2 separate regions of the Homo sapiens genome follow, and region 2 is linked to region 1. The links come from fine-mapping of genetic effects on gene expression. Tissue or cell type: whole blood. Region 1 holds a variant in brackets; the other region holds the start of a gene. All regions are shown on one strand. Distances are from middle to middle.

The links. PIP is the estimated chance that this variant, and not a neighbour inherited with it, causes the effect.
Region 2: ALMS1 starts here. The variant in region 1 is fine-mapped to the expression of ALMS1 in whole blood (INTERVAL, PIP 0.92).

The regions. Positions count from the first base shown.
Region 1 is chr2:73,479,342-73,487,443 of GRCh38, forward strand. All of the region lies in intron 9 of ALMS1 (ALMS1 centrosome and basal body associated protein), which reads left to right. Among named protein-coding and RNA genes, the nearest start is that of ALMS1-IT1, 26 kb to the left of the region's middle. RefSeq lists an enhancer at 7,479-7,998. The variant G/T (reference allele first, on the strand shown) is at 3,859.
Region 2 is chr2:73,382,074-73,390,175 of GRCh38, forward strand. It overlaps ALMS1 (ALMS1 centrosome and basal body associated protein), which reads left to right and starts at 3,763. Exons shown (of 23, transcript NM_001378454.1): 1 at 3,763-4,119. The coding sequence starts at 3,796. LOC105374804 (a long non-coding RNA gene) reads right to left here and starts at 3,608. Exons shown (of 4, transcript XR_007087053.1): 1 at 3,380-3,608. RefSeq lists enhancers at 3,522-4,271, 4,312-4,551 and silencers at 3,522-3,921, 4,082-4,251.

The DNA of each region.
Region 1 (8,102 bases):
ATGATACCTTATAATAGCTACTTCCACTTCTCTCCTGCCCCACCTTTTACTGAGCTCCTGGCAACCACTAATTTGTTCCTTTGTTTCTATAACTTTGTAATTTCAAGAATGTCATATAAATGATAACATATAGTATGCAACCTTATTGTATTGGCCTTTTTTTCACTCAGCATACTTATCTGGAGATTCATCCAGACTGTTTTATGTATCAGTAGTTTTTCTTTTTTATTGATGTATAGTATTCCAAAGTATGAATGCACCACAGTTTAAATATTCACTATTGAAGGACATCTTGGTTGTTTCCCAGTTTTTGGCTTTACCAGTACAGCTGCTGTAAACATTCATATGCAAGTTTTTGTGTGAATATGTCTTTGTTTCTGTGGGGTAGATGCCCAGGATTGCAATTGCTGGGTCATGTGGTAGTTGCATGTTTAGTTTTTTGAAAGACAGGCCACACCTTTTTCCAGGGTGGTTATATCATTTACATTCCCACCAGCAGTGTGTGAGTAATCCGTCTACTCCATATCCTCACCAGCATTTGATACTGTCACTATTTTTATTCTAGTCATTCTAATAGGTATGTAGTGGTATCTTATTAAGTTTTTAATGTGTATTTCCCTAATGGTTTTTGATGTTGCACATTTTTTAATATTTCTGTTTCCAGTCTCTTTCTCCTGTTAAGTGAAATGTCTGTATCTTTTGCCCATTTTCTTTTTTTATTTTTATTTTTATTTATTTATTTTTATTATTATACTTTAAGTTTTAGGGTACATGTGCACATTGTGCAGGTTAGTTACATATGTATACATGTGCCATGCTGGTGTGCTGCACCCACTAACTTGTCATCTAGCATTAGGTATATCTCCTAATGCTATCCGTCCCCACTCCCCCCACCCCACCACAGTCCCCAGAGTGTGATATTCTCCTTCCTGTGTCCATGTGATCTCATTGTTCAATTCCCACCTATGAGTGAGAATATGCGGTGTTTGCTTTTTGTTCTTGCGATAGTTTACTGAGAATGATGATTTCCAATTTCATCCATGTCCCTACAAAGGACATGAACTCATCATTTTTTATGGCTGCATAGTATTCCATGGTGTATATGTGCCACATTTTCTTAATCCAGTCTATAATTCTTGGACATTTGGATTGGTTCCAAGTCTTTGCTATTGTGAATAATGCCGCAATAAACATACGTGTGCATGTGTCTTTATAGCAGCATGATTTATAGTCCTTTGGGTATATACCCAGTAATGGGATGGCTGGGTCAAATGGTATTTCTAGTTCTAGATCCCTGAGGAATCGCCACATTGACTTCCACAATGGTTGAACTAGTTTACAGTCCCACCAACAGTGTAAAAGTGTTCCTATTTCTCCACATCCTCTCCAGCACCTGTTGTTTCCTGACTTTTTAATGATTGCCATTCTAACTGGTGTGAGATGGTATCTCATTGTGGTTTTGATTTGCATTTCTCTGATGTCCAGTGATGATGAGCATTTTTTCATGTGTTTTTTGTCTGCATAAATGTCTTCTTTTGAGAAGTGTCTGTTCATGTCCTTCGCCCACTTTTTGATGGGGTTGTTTGTTTTTTTCTTGTAAATTTGTTTGAGTTCATTGTAGATTCTGGATATTAGCCCTTTGTCAGATGAGTAGGTTGCGAAAATTTTCTCCCATTTTGTAGGTTTCCTGTTCACTCTGATGGTAGTTTCTTTTGCTGTGCAGAAGCTCTTTAGTTTAATTAGATCCCATTTGTCAATTTTGTCTTTTGTTGCCATTGCTTTTGGTGTTTTAGACATGAAGTCCTTGCCCACACCTATGTCCTGAATGGTAATGCCTAGGTTTTCTTCTAGGGTTTTTATGGTTTTCAGTCTAACATGTAAGTCTTTAATCCATCTTGAATTAATTTTTGTATACGGTGTAAGGAAGGGATCCAGTTTCAGCTTTCTACATATGGCTAGCCAGTTTTCCCAGCACCATTTATTAAACAGGGAATCCTTTCCCCATTGCTTGTTTTTCTCAGGTTTGTCAAAGATCAGATAGTTGTAGATATGCTGCATTATTTCTGAGGGCTCTGTTCTGTTCCATTGATCTATATCTCTGTTTTGGTACCAGTACCATGCTGTTTTGGTTACTGTAGCCTTGTAGTATAGTTTGAAGTCAGGTAGCGTGATGCCTCCAGGTTTGTTCTTTTGGCTTAGGATTGACTTGGCGATGCAGGCTCTTTTTTGGTTCCATATGAACTTTAAAGTAGTTTTTTCCAATTCTGTGAAGAAAGGCATTGGTAGCTTGATGGGGATGGCATTGAATCTGTAAGTTACCTTGGGCCGTATGGCCATTTTCACGATATTGATTCTTCCTACCCATGAGCATGGAATGTTCTTCCATTTGTTTGTATCCTCTTTTATTTCCTTGAGTAGTGGTTTGTAGTTCTCCTTGAAGAGGTCCTTCACATCCCTTGTAAGTTGGATTCCTAGGTATTTTATTCTCTTTGAAGCAATTGTGAATGGGAGTTCACTCATGATTTGGCTCTCTGTTTGTCTGTTGTTGGTGTATAAGGATGCTTGTGATTTTTGTACATTGATTTTGTATCCTGAGACTTTGCTGAAGTTGCTTATCAGCTTAAGGAGATTTTGGGCTGAGACAGTGGGGTTTTCTAGATATACAATCATGTCATCTGCAAACAGGGACAATTTGACTTCCTCTTTTCCTAATTGAATAGCTTTTATTTCCTTCTCCTGCCTAATTGCCCTGGCCAGAACTTCCAACACCATGTTGAATAGGAGTGGTGAGAGAGGGCATCCCTGTCTTGTGCCGGTTTTCAAAGGGAATGCTTCCAGTTTTTGGGCATTCAGTATGATATTGGCTGTGGGTTTGTCATAGATAACTCTTATTATTTTGAAATACGTCCCATCAATACCTAATCTATTGAGAGTTTTTAGCATGAAGTGTTGTTGAATTTTGTCAAAGGCTTTTTCTGCATCTATTGAGAAAATCATGTGGTTTTTGTCTTTGGCTCTGTTTATATGCTGGATTACATTTATTGATTTGCATATATTGAACCAGCCTTGCATCCCAGGGATGAAGCCCACTTGATCATGGTGGATAAGCTTTTCGGTGTGCTGCTGGATTCAGTTTGCCAGTATTTTATTGAGGATTTTTGCATCAATGTTCATCAAGGATATTGGTCTAAAATTCTCTTTTTTTGTTGTGTCTCTGCCTGGCTTTGGTATCAGAATGATGCTGGCCTCATAAAAAGAGTTAGGGAGGATTCCCTCTTTTTCCATTGATTGGAATAGTTTCAGAAGGAATGGTACCAGTTCCTTCTTGTACCTCTGGTAGAATTCGGCTGTTAATCCATCTGGTCCTGGACTCTTTTTGGTTGGTAAGCTATTGATTATTGCCACAATTTCAGATCCTGTTATTGGTCTATTCAGAGATTCAACTTCTTCCTGGTTTAGTCTTGGGAGAGTGTATGTGTCGAGGAATTTATCCATTTCTTCTAGATTTTCTAGTTTATTTGCATAGAGGTGTTTGTAGTATTCTCTGATGGTAGTTTGTATTTCTGTGGGATCGGTGGTGATATCCCCTTTATCATTTTTAATTGTGTCTATTTGATTCTTCTCTCTTTTTTTCTTTATTAGTCTTGCTAGCAGTCTTTTGTTGATCCTTTCAAAAAACCAGCTCCTGGATTCATTAATTTTTTGAAGGGTTTTTTGTGTCTCTATTTCCTTCAGTTCTGCTCTGATTTTAGTTATTTCTTGCCTTCTGCTAGCTTTTGAATGTGTTTGCTCTTGCTTTTCTAGTTCTTTTAATTGTGATGTTAGGGTGTCAATTTTGGATCTTTCCTGCTTTCTCTT[G/T]TGGGCATTTAGTGCTATAAATTTCCCTCTACACACTGCTTTGAATGTGTCCCAGAGATTCTGGTATGTTGTGTCTTTGTTCTCGTTGGTTTCAAAGAACATCTTTATTTGTGCCTTCATTTCGTTATGTACCCAGTAGTCATTCAGGAGCAGGTTGTTCAGTTTCCATGTAGTTGAGCGGTTTTGAGTGAGATTCTTAATCTTGAGTTCTAGTTTGATTGCACTGTGGTCTGAGAGATAGTTTGTTATAATTTCTGTTCTTTTACATTTGTTGAGGAGAGCTTTAGTTCCAAGTATGTGGTCAATTTTGGAATAGGTGTGGTGTGGTGCTGAAAAAAATGTATATTCTGTTGATTTGGGGTGGAGAGTTCTGTAGATGTCTATTAGGTCCACTTGGTGCAGAGCTGAGTTCAGTTCCTGGGTATCCTTGTTGACTTTCTGTCTCGTTGATCTGTCTAATGTTGACAGTGGGGTGTTAAAGTCTCCCATGATTAATGTGTGGGAGTCTAAGTCTCTTTGTAGGTCACTCAGGACTTGCTTTATGAATCTGGGTGCTCCTGTATTGGGTGCATATATATTTAGGATAGTTAGCTCTTCTTGTTGAATTGATCCCTTTACCATTATGTAATGGCCTTCTTTGTCTCTTTTGATCTTTGTTGGTTTAAAGTCTGTTTTATCAGAGACTAGGATTGCAACCCCTGCCTTTTTTTGTTTTCCATTTGCTTGGTAGATCTTCCTCCATCCTTTTATTTTGAGCCTATGTGTGTCTCTGCATGTGAGATGGGTTTCCTGAATACAGCACACTGATGGGTCTTGACTCTTTATCCAATTTGCCAGTCTTTGCCTTTTAATTGGAGCATTTAGTCCATTTATATTTAAAGTTAATATTGTTATGTGTGAATTTGATCCTGTCATTATGATGTTAGCTGGTTATTTTGCTCATTAGTTGATGCAGTTTCTTCCTAGTCTTGATGGTCTTTACATTTTGGCATGATTTTGCAGCGGCTGGTACTGGTTGTTCCTTTCCATGTTTAGTGCTTCCTTCAGGAGCTCTTTTAGGGCAGGCCTAGTGGTGACAAAATCTCTCAGCATTTGCTTGTCTGTAAAGGATTTTATTTCTCCTTCACTTATGAAGCTTAGTTTGGCTGGATATGAAATTCTGGGTTGAAAATTCTTTTCTTTAAGAATGTTGAATATTGGCCCCCACTCTCTTCTGGCTTATAGGGTTTCTGCCGAGAGATCCGCTGTTAGTCTGATGGGCTTCCCTTTGTGGGTAATCCGACCTTTCTCTCTGGCTGTCCTTAACATTTTTTCCTTCATTTCAACTTTGGTGAATCTGACAATTAATGTGTCTTGGAGTTGCTCTTCTCGAGGAGTATCTTTGTGGCGTTCTCTGTATTTCCTGAATCTGAATGTTGGCCTGCCTTGCTAGATTGGGGAAGTTCTCCTGGATAATATCCTGCAGAGTGTTTTCCAACTTGGTTCCATTCTCCCCATCACTTTCAGGTACACCAATCAGACGTAGATTTGTTCTTTTCACATAGTCCCATATTTCTTGGAGGCTTTGCTCATTTCTTTTTATTCTTTTTTCTCTAAACTTCCCTTCTCGCTTCATTTCATTCATTTCTTCTTCCATCGCTGATACCCTTTCTTCCAGTTGATGGCATCGGCTCTTGAGGCTTCTGCATTCTTCACATAGTTCTCGAGCCTTGTTTTTCAGCTCCATCAGCTCCTTTAAGCACTTCTCTGTATTGGTTATTCTAGTTACACATTCTTCTAAATTTTTTTCAAAGTTTTCAACTTCTTTGCCTTTGGTTTGAATGTCCTCCCGTAGCTCAGAGTAATTTGATCGTCTGAAGCCTTCTTCTCTCAGCTCGTCAAAGTCATTCTCCATCCAGCTTTGTTCCATTGCTGGTGAGGAACTGTGTTCCTTTGGAGGAGGAGAGGTGCTCTGCTTTTTAGAGTTTCCAGTTTTTCTGCTCTGTTTTTTCCCCATCTTTGTGGTTTTATCTACTTTTGGTCTTTGATGATGGTGATGTACAGATGGGTTTTTGGTGTGGATGTCCTTTCTATTTGTTAATTTTCCTTCTAACAGACAGGACCCTCCGCTGCAGGTCTGTTGGAATACCCTGCCGTGTGAGGTGTCAGTGTGCCCCTGCTGGGAGGTGCCTCCCTGTTAGGCTGCTCAGGGGTCAGGGGTCAGGGACCCACTTGAGGAGGCAGTCTGCCCGTTCTCAGATCTCCAGCTGTGTGCTGGGAGAACCACTGCTCTCTTCAAAGCTGTCAGACAGGGACATTTAAGTCTGCAGAGGTTACTGCTGCTTTTTGTTTGTCTGTGCCCTTCCTCCAGAGATGTAGCCTACAGAGGCAGGCAGGCCTCCTTGAGCTGTGGTGGGCTCCACCCAGTTCGAGCTTCCAGGCTGCTTTGTTTACCTAAGCAAGCCTGGGCAATGGCGGGCGCCCCTCCCCCAGCCTCGCTGCCACCTTGCAGTTTGATCTCAGACTGCTGTGCTAGCAATCAGCGAGACTCCGTGGGCCTAGGACGCTCGGAGCCAGGTGCGGGGTATAATCTCGTGGTGCGCCGTTTTTTAAGCCGGTTGGAAAAGCGCAGTATTCGGGTGGGAGTGACCCGATTTTCCAGGTGCGTCCGTCACCCCTTTCTTTGACTAGGAAAGGGAACTCCCTGACCCCTTGCGCTTCCCAAGTGAGGCAATGCCTTGCCCTGCTTCGTCTCGCACACGGTGCGCGCACCCACTGACCTGCGCCCACTGTCTGGCACTCCCTAGTTAGATGAACCCAGTACCTCAGATGGAAGTGCAGAAATCACCGTCTTCTGCGTGGCTCACGCTGGGAGCTGTAGACCGGAGCTGTTCCTATTCGGCCATCTTGGCTCCTGTCCCTCTTTTGCCCATTTTTTAATTGGATTGTCTTTTTTTTCCCTTTTTACTGTTGTGAATTGTATATATATGTTAGTATATATGTTAGATGTAAGGCTAGCAGATACAAGACCTTTGTTGGATATGAGGTTTGCAAATATTTTCTTGTAACCTGTAGCTGGGAGAGAGAGGGGCATTTTGTTTTGCTGGATAGTCTAGGTAGGCTTCGCTAGACTTTCACTGACGCCGCAAGGAAGGGATAGCACTTTATCAGCCAGCAGAGATGAAAGTAAGTCCTGGGTTCCTCACTTGGCCTTTGCTGGTGTTGGTGTGAGTGGGTCTAGTTTTTTCTGTGATGGTTGGCTGGAGTAGAATGGTTATTATTTAAAAGTTCTCTCTTTTGCTAGGCTTCACCTCTACTGGGTTTTTAGCTAGTGAGAAAAGCTCTTGTTAGGGTTTTTTGTCTGTGTCCATTGTTCCTGGGTAGCTGACTTCTTCAGCTCCAAGTCTGTATATGCAAGAGAAAAAGAAAACCCAGTGATTGCACCACAGCATAATTCCTCAGGTCCCTAGATCTCTAGCTAATCTACGTTCTTCTCTACATCTTTCAGATTCTTCTTACATTTGTTTTATATATATTTTCCAGTGGGCTGAATTATACTTAGCAGGAGAAATAGGGAAAAGTACATCTGGCCAGGCGCAGTGGCTCATGCCTGTAATCCCAGCACTTTGGGGAGGCTGAGGCAGGAGGATCCCTTGAATCCAGGAGTTGGAGACCAGCCTGGGCAACAAAGTGAGACCCAGTCTCTACAAAAATAAAAATAAGAAAATTAGCCCGGTGTAGTGGCATGTGCCTGTTGTCCCAGCTATCCAGGAGGCTGAGGTGGCAGGATCGCCTGAGCCTGGGAGGTCGTGGCTTCAGTGATAGTGCCACAGCATTCCAGCCTGGGTGACACAGCAAGACCCTGTCTTAAACAAAGAAGAAGAGAAAAGAAAGAAAAATGTCACAGGATCCTCAGGGTGTCAGTTTGCAAGCTGGAAACCACTGTGGCCAGCAGCACCTTCTGCCTGAGTATTGTTCACACTGCTGGGCACATTCTCCGCACTTGGCCTGGCAGGCTGTGCTTGGCTCGCACTACTATGCTATGTCTTACACCTGCCAAGCATGAGCCAGGTGTGGAGTGGTGAGGGGTGTGTGGGCAAGCAAGTGTGGGGTCTAGCCACTGTACACAGCCAGGCATGCTGACGGCTGTGGTAGGGCAGGCAGCTCCAGTGCTGGCACTGGTGCTGGCGCCACGCAAGGCTGCAGCTGGACCAGATGTACTGTGCGTGGCTTCTGCTGTGGGCACCCACATCTGGGTGAGGGAA
Region 2 (8,102 bases), 97 kb before region 1:
TACCAGAAACAAAATGATTATCCATCTTTGTAAAAAGTCTTGAAGACAGGGACCCAGATTATAAAGTCCTGGCAATGAAAACATGCCCCAGAATCCAGCTGAGTCTGTTTTTAGGGAGCCAGGAGGATTTTCTCTTTTCAGTTTACTCATGTTCTACTGACTCTGTAGTATGTTCTACTGGCCCAGTAGTATGTGAGTATGGTGACAAGTGTTGCTAAATACAAACTCCTCCTTGGCCAGCTAAGAAGAAATCAAGGGTTATATAATTATCCATGAAAACTCTGGCTAAGGAATTCAAATTTAAGTGGTTTTCTGAGCTGCTATAGCAGAAGTTTTGCTATCTATGGGGTCTGCTAAGGTCAAATACCTCTCTTGGATCTGATCTCTTTCTGTTGTATTATCTTTGTTGTAGGAATTTCATTCACAGAGTACACATGAAAAATGAGTCAGTTATCCCTCCTGGGAGTTCTCCCAAGTAGTCTGTGATTGTGTGCTTGCTTCATTTTGTTGGTTTCTGGGTGTTCTTTTCAAAGAAACACAGTCTACTGGAGGGGTGGTAATTTTAAGCACTGGAGGGTCTCTAACAATTAGCTTCAATATAAAGGGTAAGTTAGTGGGCAAGCCAGATGTTCCCATAAATAAGTAGTACCCTAGGGGAGTACAGACTGCATTGGGAGGATAAGGGCTATTTAGCACATCAGGGACAAGCCAACTTTCTTTCCCTCAGGATAAGCAGATTTCTTGGATGAAGTTAAACAGGTTTCTCCAAAGCAGGCTGGAATGTTTTGGAAGAGAATGACCTGAGTAGTGTATAAAGAATAGCCCCAATATTAGTTTCTATTCCTGAAGGGCTAGGTTTTTCTCATAGGATTGTAATGACTTCAGGGAAACATTCTGTTGAAGTGTAGGTCAAGGTCCAATTTTTAGAAGACTGAGGTTTGGGATGAACTTTGTGGGGAATGCTTAAGTACCAGAAGTGACCTACAGAAGAAAATCTACTTGATGAAGTCTATGAAAGCACAGTTATTAAATTTTGTCAACAATTCCTTAAAAGCAGTAGCTACGGTTTGAGAAAAACACTCCAGAAAGTGTCTCTTTTCTTTTCTTTTTTTCCTTCCCTTTCCTTTCTCTTTCCCTTTCCCCTTTCCCCTCCTTTCCTTTCCTTTCTCTTTCTCTCTTCTCCCTTTCTCTCTTTCTTTTTTAGATTGGGTTTCACTTTGTTGCCCATTGGCACGATCACAGCTCACTGCAGTCTTGGACTCCTGAGCTTCAAGGACCCTCTTGCCTCAGCCTCCTGAGTAGCTGGGACTCCAGATACGTGCCACCATGCCCAGCTAATTTTTTATTGTTTTTAGAGATGGGGGTCTTGCTACATTGCCTACGTTAGTTAGACTCCTGGTCTCAAGTGATCTTCCCACCTTGGCTTTCTAAAGTGCTGGAATTACAGGTATGACCCACTGCACCTGGCCAAATAATGTTTACTTTAAGTAGTAGAACATAGGGAGTCAAAAGTAACAGGATGAAGATAAGGGTTATCTCCCCGAGAAATCAATTTGTTAGTTAATCAAGGGTGTCAAAATGCAATAAGCAAGATTAGTGGTAGGGTAAGAGATGCCAAGGAATCAGAAATTAATCTTGTCCTGTTGTCTTGGGTATAAACTGCCCATTTCTGCAGTAAGCAGCTTCTGGGGAAGTCCCAGGAATCTTCAGTTTGAGGTCTTCCAATAGTATGGGATGTCCGGTAGCCAGGAGAAAATGATGCATGTCTTTTTAGTTGTGTAATATGAATCCAGGGATCAATGTCTTCTAGTTTTACTCCTGGGTCAGTTGTTGATAGTACCTGACATTTTTTTTTCTTGCATTGAGGCTCAAGGGAAATTGTTTTCTAATGCTTTTTCAGAAGACCAAATCTCTAACTTCAGAAGCTGCTTAGGTGGGTGCTTTGAGAATGCAGCTTCCATCTGTTGTTGATAAAGCAGGAGTTAATCTTAGAAGTCTCCTGCAGCAATTAGTGATAACAGCTTATATTAGTAGCATCTAGTATTGGAAGTAATTCACAAATACATGAGGAAGCCTGTTATTAACTCAGAAGGAGATAACTTATGGGCCTTAGAATGGACTGACCTTATTGCCATCAAGGCAAATAGAAGTACTTTGGGCTTTGGAAGTTAGATGGAAGTTAGAGAACTTTGAAAGCTATTTTTTAGAATTCTATTAGTTCTCTTTATCTTTCCTGAAATTTGTGGATGCAAAAAGATAGCGGAGTTTCTAAAAAGGTAAAGCTTTACAGTTATTTAATATCAGTGAAATGTGTGTCCTCTTACTGGAGATAAACATTGAGATTTCACATTCAGGAATACAAAATTAATAAATTCTTTTCTACTATTACAGTAATAGGTCTCCGGCAAGGAGAACCCCTAAACCCCTTAAGAATAAATAACCCTAATGTACTCATAGTCCATTTAGAGGTGTTCAACAGAACTCCAAGACTGGGCTCCAGTTCATGTTCTACCCTTAAAGTTTTGCCAGGATTGGGTCATTGACAGGTAGGCAGGACATACATCCTTGGCAATAACCCTAAAATTGCCCCACCAACATTGGTTCAGCATCATTATCAATGTATCTCTACTATTGTGGGTAATACCATGAAGACTTTTTGCTGGACTCCACTTTAATTATGGCTATTTCCTTTGGTAACAGTGAAGCATCTCAAGATTATAATTATTATTTAAAATTTTAATTTAAAAATTTTCCCCATAGGTTATTGGGGGTACAGGTGGTGTCTGGTTACATGGCATCTTAAGATACTTTAATTTGCCATTCATTTCGTAGAGGTTCCTGAAGCGGTCAGGAAATCTTTGTTTTTAAAGCACTCCAAAGTCATTGACGAACCACCAAAACATATGTACTATCAGTATAAATATTTGCTCTGTTATCCTTTAACAGCTGGTTGGTCTAGGCCAGGGCAATTCCTACACTAACAGAGGACCTGGGATGGCATACTGAGTCAGCCACTTACTAGGTAAGAAACTTTGGGCAAATTAATTTTTTTAGCCTCAGATTCTTCATACATGAAATAGTAATACTTGTCTCACAGAACCGTGAGCATCTAATGAGTTATTGTACAATAACCAACCTATCACTAAGTCCTTCACATTGATTATTTCCTTTAATTATCACACCCATCCTATGCGATGGCCTATTATCATCGTTTTATAAACACAAAGTCACACCACTTTAAGTGGTGATGCCAGGATTCAAACTCCGATCTTTCTGATGCCAGTGCCCAGTTCTTAATCCCTCTAACAACCCGTGACACTTTTCCACGGTTAGGTTCAAGCGCCCACCATACAGCTTGACACTTTAGGAGATACTCAACCTTTAAAACTTTATAATTTGCATGTGTGATTATAACGGGTACGTCCTAGAGTTTGATCTCTTCTCTGTGCAGGGGCGAAACTCGACCCCAGCCGAGAACTACACTGTCCTTGCGCGGGGCCCTCTGCGCCCCGGAAGGCGCCCAGTCCCGGTTTATTGTGAGCTTACAGTACAGTTCGCAAGGTCCCGGCCGGTGACGGCGGCGAGGCGGCAACGTCGCCTGTAGCAAACCTCCGCCCTAAGGCGTTCCCGCCGGGCCTCGCGCGGCGTCCCTAGCAACGCGCGCGCGGTCTTCCGGCCCCGCCCAGGCGGGCGGCACTGCGCCTAAGCTGGGCCACAACCGCCAGTCAGGGCTCTCCCCTTCCCCTCCCTCCCCCCCTCCTCCTCCTCCTCTGCCGCCCAGAGCGAGACACCAACATGGAGCCCGAGGATCTGCCATGGCCGGGCGAGCTGGAGGAGGAGGAGGAGGAGGAGGAGGAGGAGGAGGAGGAAGAGGAGGAGGCTGCAGCGGCGGCGGCGGCGAACGTGGACGACGTAGTGGTCGTGGAGGAGGTGGAGGAAGAGGCGGGGCGGGAGTTGGACTCCGACTCTCACTACGGGCCCCAGCATCTGGAAAGTATAGACGACGAGGAGGACGAGGAGGCCAAGGCCTGGCTGCAGGCGCACCCCGGCAGGATTTTGCCTCCGCTGTCGCCCCCGCAGCACCGCTACTCGGAGGGCGAGCGGACCTCCCTGGAGAAGGTGAGGCGGGCCGGGGAGGGGTGTGGAGCCGCGGCGAGTTGGGGGTGGAGGCTGGGCCCCGAGCGCTCCGCCCGCCCGCAGGTCACGCCGCCTGACGGAGAAAACGCGCGCAGCTGAGGCTAGTAGGCGGCCCAGACTCCAGCCCAGGTGCCGGCCGGCTGCTCCGCGTCTCCCAGGCTTTGTGGCAAAGACTTCTCGTTTCCTCCCCCTCGGTGGGTCCTGGGCCTTTTGAACTCCCGTAGACGTTCAGGGGAGCCTGCATTCCCCGTGAGAAACGCTGAGAGAGGACCACGGGTGTGTCGAGCCTTGAAGGAGGGAAAAGGCGGTGTAGGACCGGAGCGAGTGGTTGCCTGGGGAGCATCTTGTTGGGGAGACAGTGAACAGATGAGCTTGACTGAATTGCAGGACTCCCCTGAGGGAGTAATGTGGATAATGTACACCGCGCGATCACTTAGTCTGGAGAGGCTCCCCGCGGGTTTTCCTCCCCTGGACCATCATTTGTAGCAATAAAGGGGTTCCCCAGCCGATAGGAGGGGCTTGGAATGCAGGAGGCTTGTGATGCGGCTCCAAACAGTCTGCAAAACTACAAAGCACAGATAATACACAATGGAGAAAGCCGATTTCATGGTAGACCCCCGAAGATCATTTTGAAAATAACTCTCCATTTAATTTGCTGCCCTTACCCCCCTTTTTTTAACTTACTGCTTTTCGAGGAGCAAGACCTGCCCTGCTCAGTACAGTAGCCACTGGCCACGTGTGGCTTTTTACATCTTAAAGAGAAAACTATTATAGTTTTGAGTAAGAGTTAAAAATAAATTAAATGAAAAATTCCATGCGTCTGTTCTTACCGGTTTTCAAGTGCTCAGCAGCCACACTAGGCTAGTGGCTACCATGTTGGACAGAGCAGATAATGGAACAGTTCCATCATCACAGACAGTGAAGGTGTAGAGTTTTGTCACTAATGAGCAGTAGTTGTTGTTTTGTCTGGTGAATATTCCAGGGGGTACTTAATTCATTGAACATGTATTATTAGAATTCACCATGTGCCACACATTGTGCTGGGTGCTAAGGAAAGCTTGGTGAACCCAAACATTTTTGGTCTCTGCCTTCCTTGTGTTCATGGTCTAGACAGGGAGGCAGACAGATTTCAGATGATCACATAAAGTGAAACTAATATATGTGCTAATATTCTATGAAAGCATAAAGTAAGATAATCTGGCCTTGTCAGTGAAGTTGGGAAAGCCTTCTTGAGGAGGTTATGATAGAGCTGATATCTGAAGACAGTTTAAGGTTAATCAGGCAAAGGGGAGGGAAAGAGCCGTCTAGCTGAGGGAAAAACACATGAAAAGGTACTGTTGATGAGAGAGAGCATGGCATTTTCCAGGACCCAGAAGCCAACGTGGTTTGAGCACAGACTGCAAGGCTTTGTGTGCTATGCCAAGGATTTAGGGGCTTTATCTCTGGAGCTTTGGGGAGTTGAAGAAAATATTTGAAACGAGGGGATGTATGATAAGTTAGGTGTTTCAGAAAGGTCAGGTGTATAGCAGAGTGTGGAACAGCTGTGATAGCAAGGTGGGATGGGGAGCAGTAGCCATAGGTCAAGGGCATAAATTAGGAGACCATTGCAGCATTGCCCGGCAAAAGATGATGAAAGTTTGGAATAGGGAAGTGTTGGTGGATACAGGGAAAAGTGGACTGATTTGAGAGATATTTAAGAGGCAAAATCATCATACTTAATAACGGATGGGATGTGAAAGGTGAAGTAGCCAGGTGTTAGGTTATTGTTTGAATGGTTGTGCCAATATTAAGATATGGCCAGATTTATGGTGGAGGTGGTGGCTGTGAGTGGGTGGTGGAATTGGTTGGGTGAGTCTTAAGATTATGAGTTTGGTTTTGAAGATTGAAGGAGAAGGCTGGGCTAGAGATTTCAAGTTGTAAGTCATTTACATAGAGACCATAATTAAAGCCACACTTGTTGACTAGGTCTTCTAACTTTTATTTTGTCCTGTGACTTCTTGCTTGAATAACTATTAATATTCAAACTTTATCTTGAAGCCTAGAGGAGGAGTTTTTTAAACAAAATTTTAATTTAATTTTAGATTTGGGGGTACATATGCACGTAATTAACATGGATATATTGCATAATGGTGAGGTTTGGGCTTCTAGTGAACCTCTCACCCAAATAATATACCTTTGTACGTGATAGTGTAACATTGTACTTGATAGGTAATTTTTCAGCCCTTCTCTCCTCCTTCTGGAGCCCCCAGTGTCTGTTTATTTCCATCTTTATGTCTGTGGGTACTTATTGTACCCATTTATCTTTATGCCTCTGTGTACCCATTGTACCCACTTGTCTTACCAGTGAGAGCATGTGGTATTTGATTTTCTGTTTCTGAATTGTTTCACTTGATAAATAGCCTCCAGGCTCCATCCATGTTGCTGCAAAGGACAGGATTTCATTCTGTTTATAGCTGCATAATATTCCACAATGTATATTAATACATACTACATTTTCTTTACCCATTCAGTTGTTGATGGACACTTAGGTTGATTTCATGACTTTGCTATTGTGAACGGTGCTGTGATAAACATATGAGCACAGATTTTTTTCTTTTTTTTTAATGGCGTCTAGCTGGTGTAGAACACCTGGGCTCAAGTGATACTCCGCCTTGGCTTCCCAAAGTGCTGGGATTACAGGTGTGAGCCAGTGTGCCTGGCTCAGATGTCTTTTTGATGAAATGATTTAATTTCCTTTGGAGAGATACCCAGTAGTAGGATTGCTGGGTCAAATGGTAGTTCTGTTTTGAGTTCTTCAAGAAATCTCCATACTGCTTTCCATAGGAGTTGAACAATTTACATTCCCAACAACAGTGTATACGTGTTCCCTTTTCTTCTCATCCTTGCCAACATCTGTTTTTTGACTTTTTAATAATAGCCATTCTGACTGGTGTGAGATGGTATCTCATTGTGATTTTAATTTGCATTTCTCTGATGCTTAGTGATGTTGAGCATTTTTTCATGTTTTTTGGCCGCTCGTATGTCTTCTTTTGAGAAGTGTCTGTTCAGTCTTTTGCCCGCTTTTTAGTGGGGTTATTTGTTTTTTCTTCCTGTTGATTTGTTTGAGTTCCTTATAGATGCTGGATATTAGTCCTTTGTCAGATGCATAGTTTGCAGATATTTTCTCCCATCCTGTAGGTTGTCTGTTTACTCTGTTGGTAGTTTATTTTGCTGTGCAGGAGCTCTTCTAGTTTAATTAAGTTCCATTTGTCTGTTTTTATTTTTGTTGCATTTGCTTTTGAGGTCTTAATCATAAACTTTTTTCCTAAGTATTCTTTAGGATTATTATAATTTCGGGCCTTACATTTAAATCTTTAATCTATCTTGAGTTAATCTTTGCATATGGTGAGAGATAGGGACCCAGAGGAGGAATTTTTAAGCTAACCCTCTTTTACTACAGCCAATGTGAGAAAATTATTTTCCTGTTTAATAATGAACTATCTTTTTTTTCCCCCGCCGAGATGAAGTCTTGCTCTGTTGCCCAGGCTGGAGTGCAGTGTCACGATCTTGGTTCACTGCAACCTCTGCCTCCTGGGTTCAAGCAATTCTCCTGCCTCAGCCTCCCGAGTAGCTGGGATTACAGGTATCCACCACCACGCCTGGCTAATTTTTGTAGTTTTAGTAGAGATGGGGTTTCACCATGTTGGCCAGGCTGGTCTTGAACTCCTGACCTGTGATCTGCCTGCCTCAGCCTCCCAAAGTGTTGGGATTAGAGGCATGAGCCACCGCGCCCGGCCTCTAATCGTGAACTATCTATGGGTAATAGAAAATCTTACTTCTGAGAGCCCAGAGTATTTTTTCCTCCCCACAGTTTTTTCTTTCCCCTGAGAAAAATTAGATATTTTCTTATTTACCTGAGAGAATATATGATAATATATAGAATATATAGATGATTTTCTGTATTAAAGGTAGATTTACAATGATAC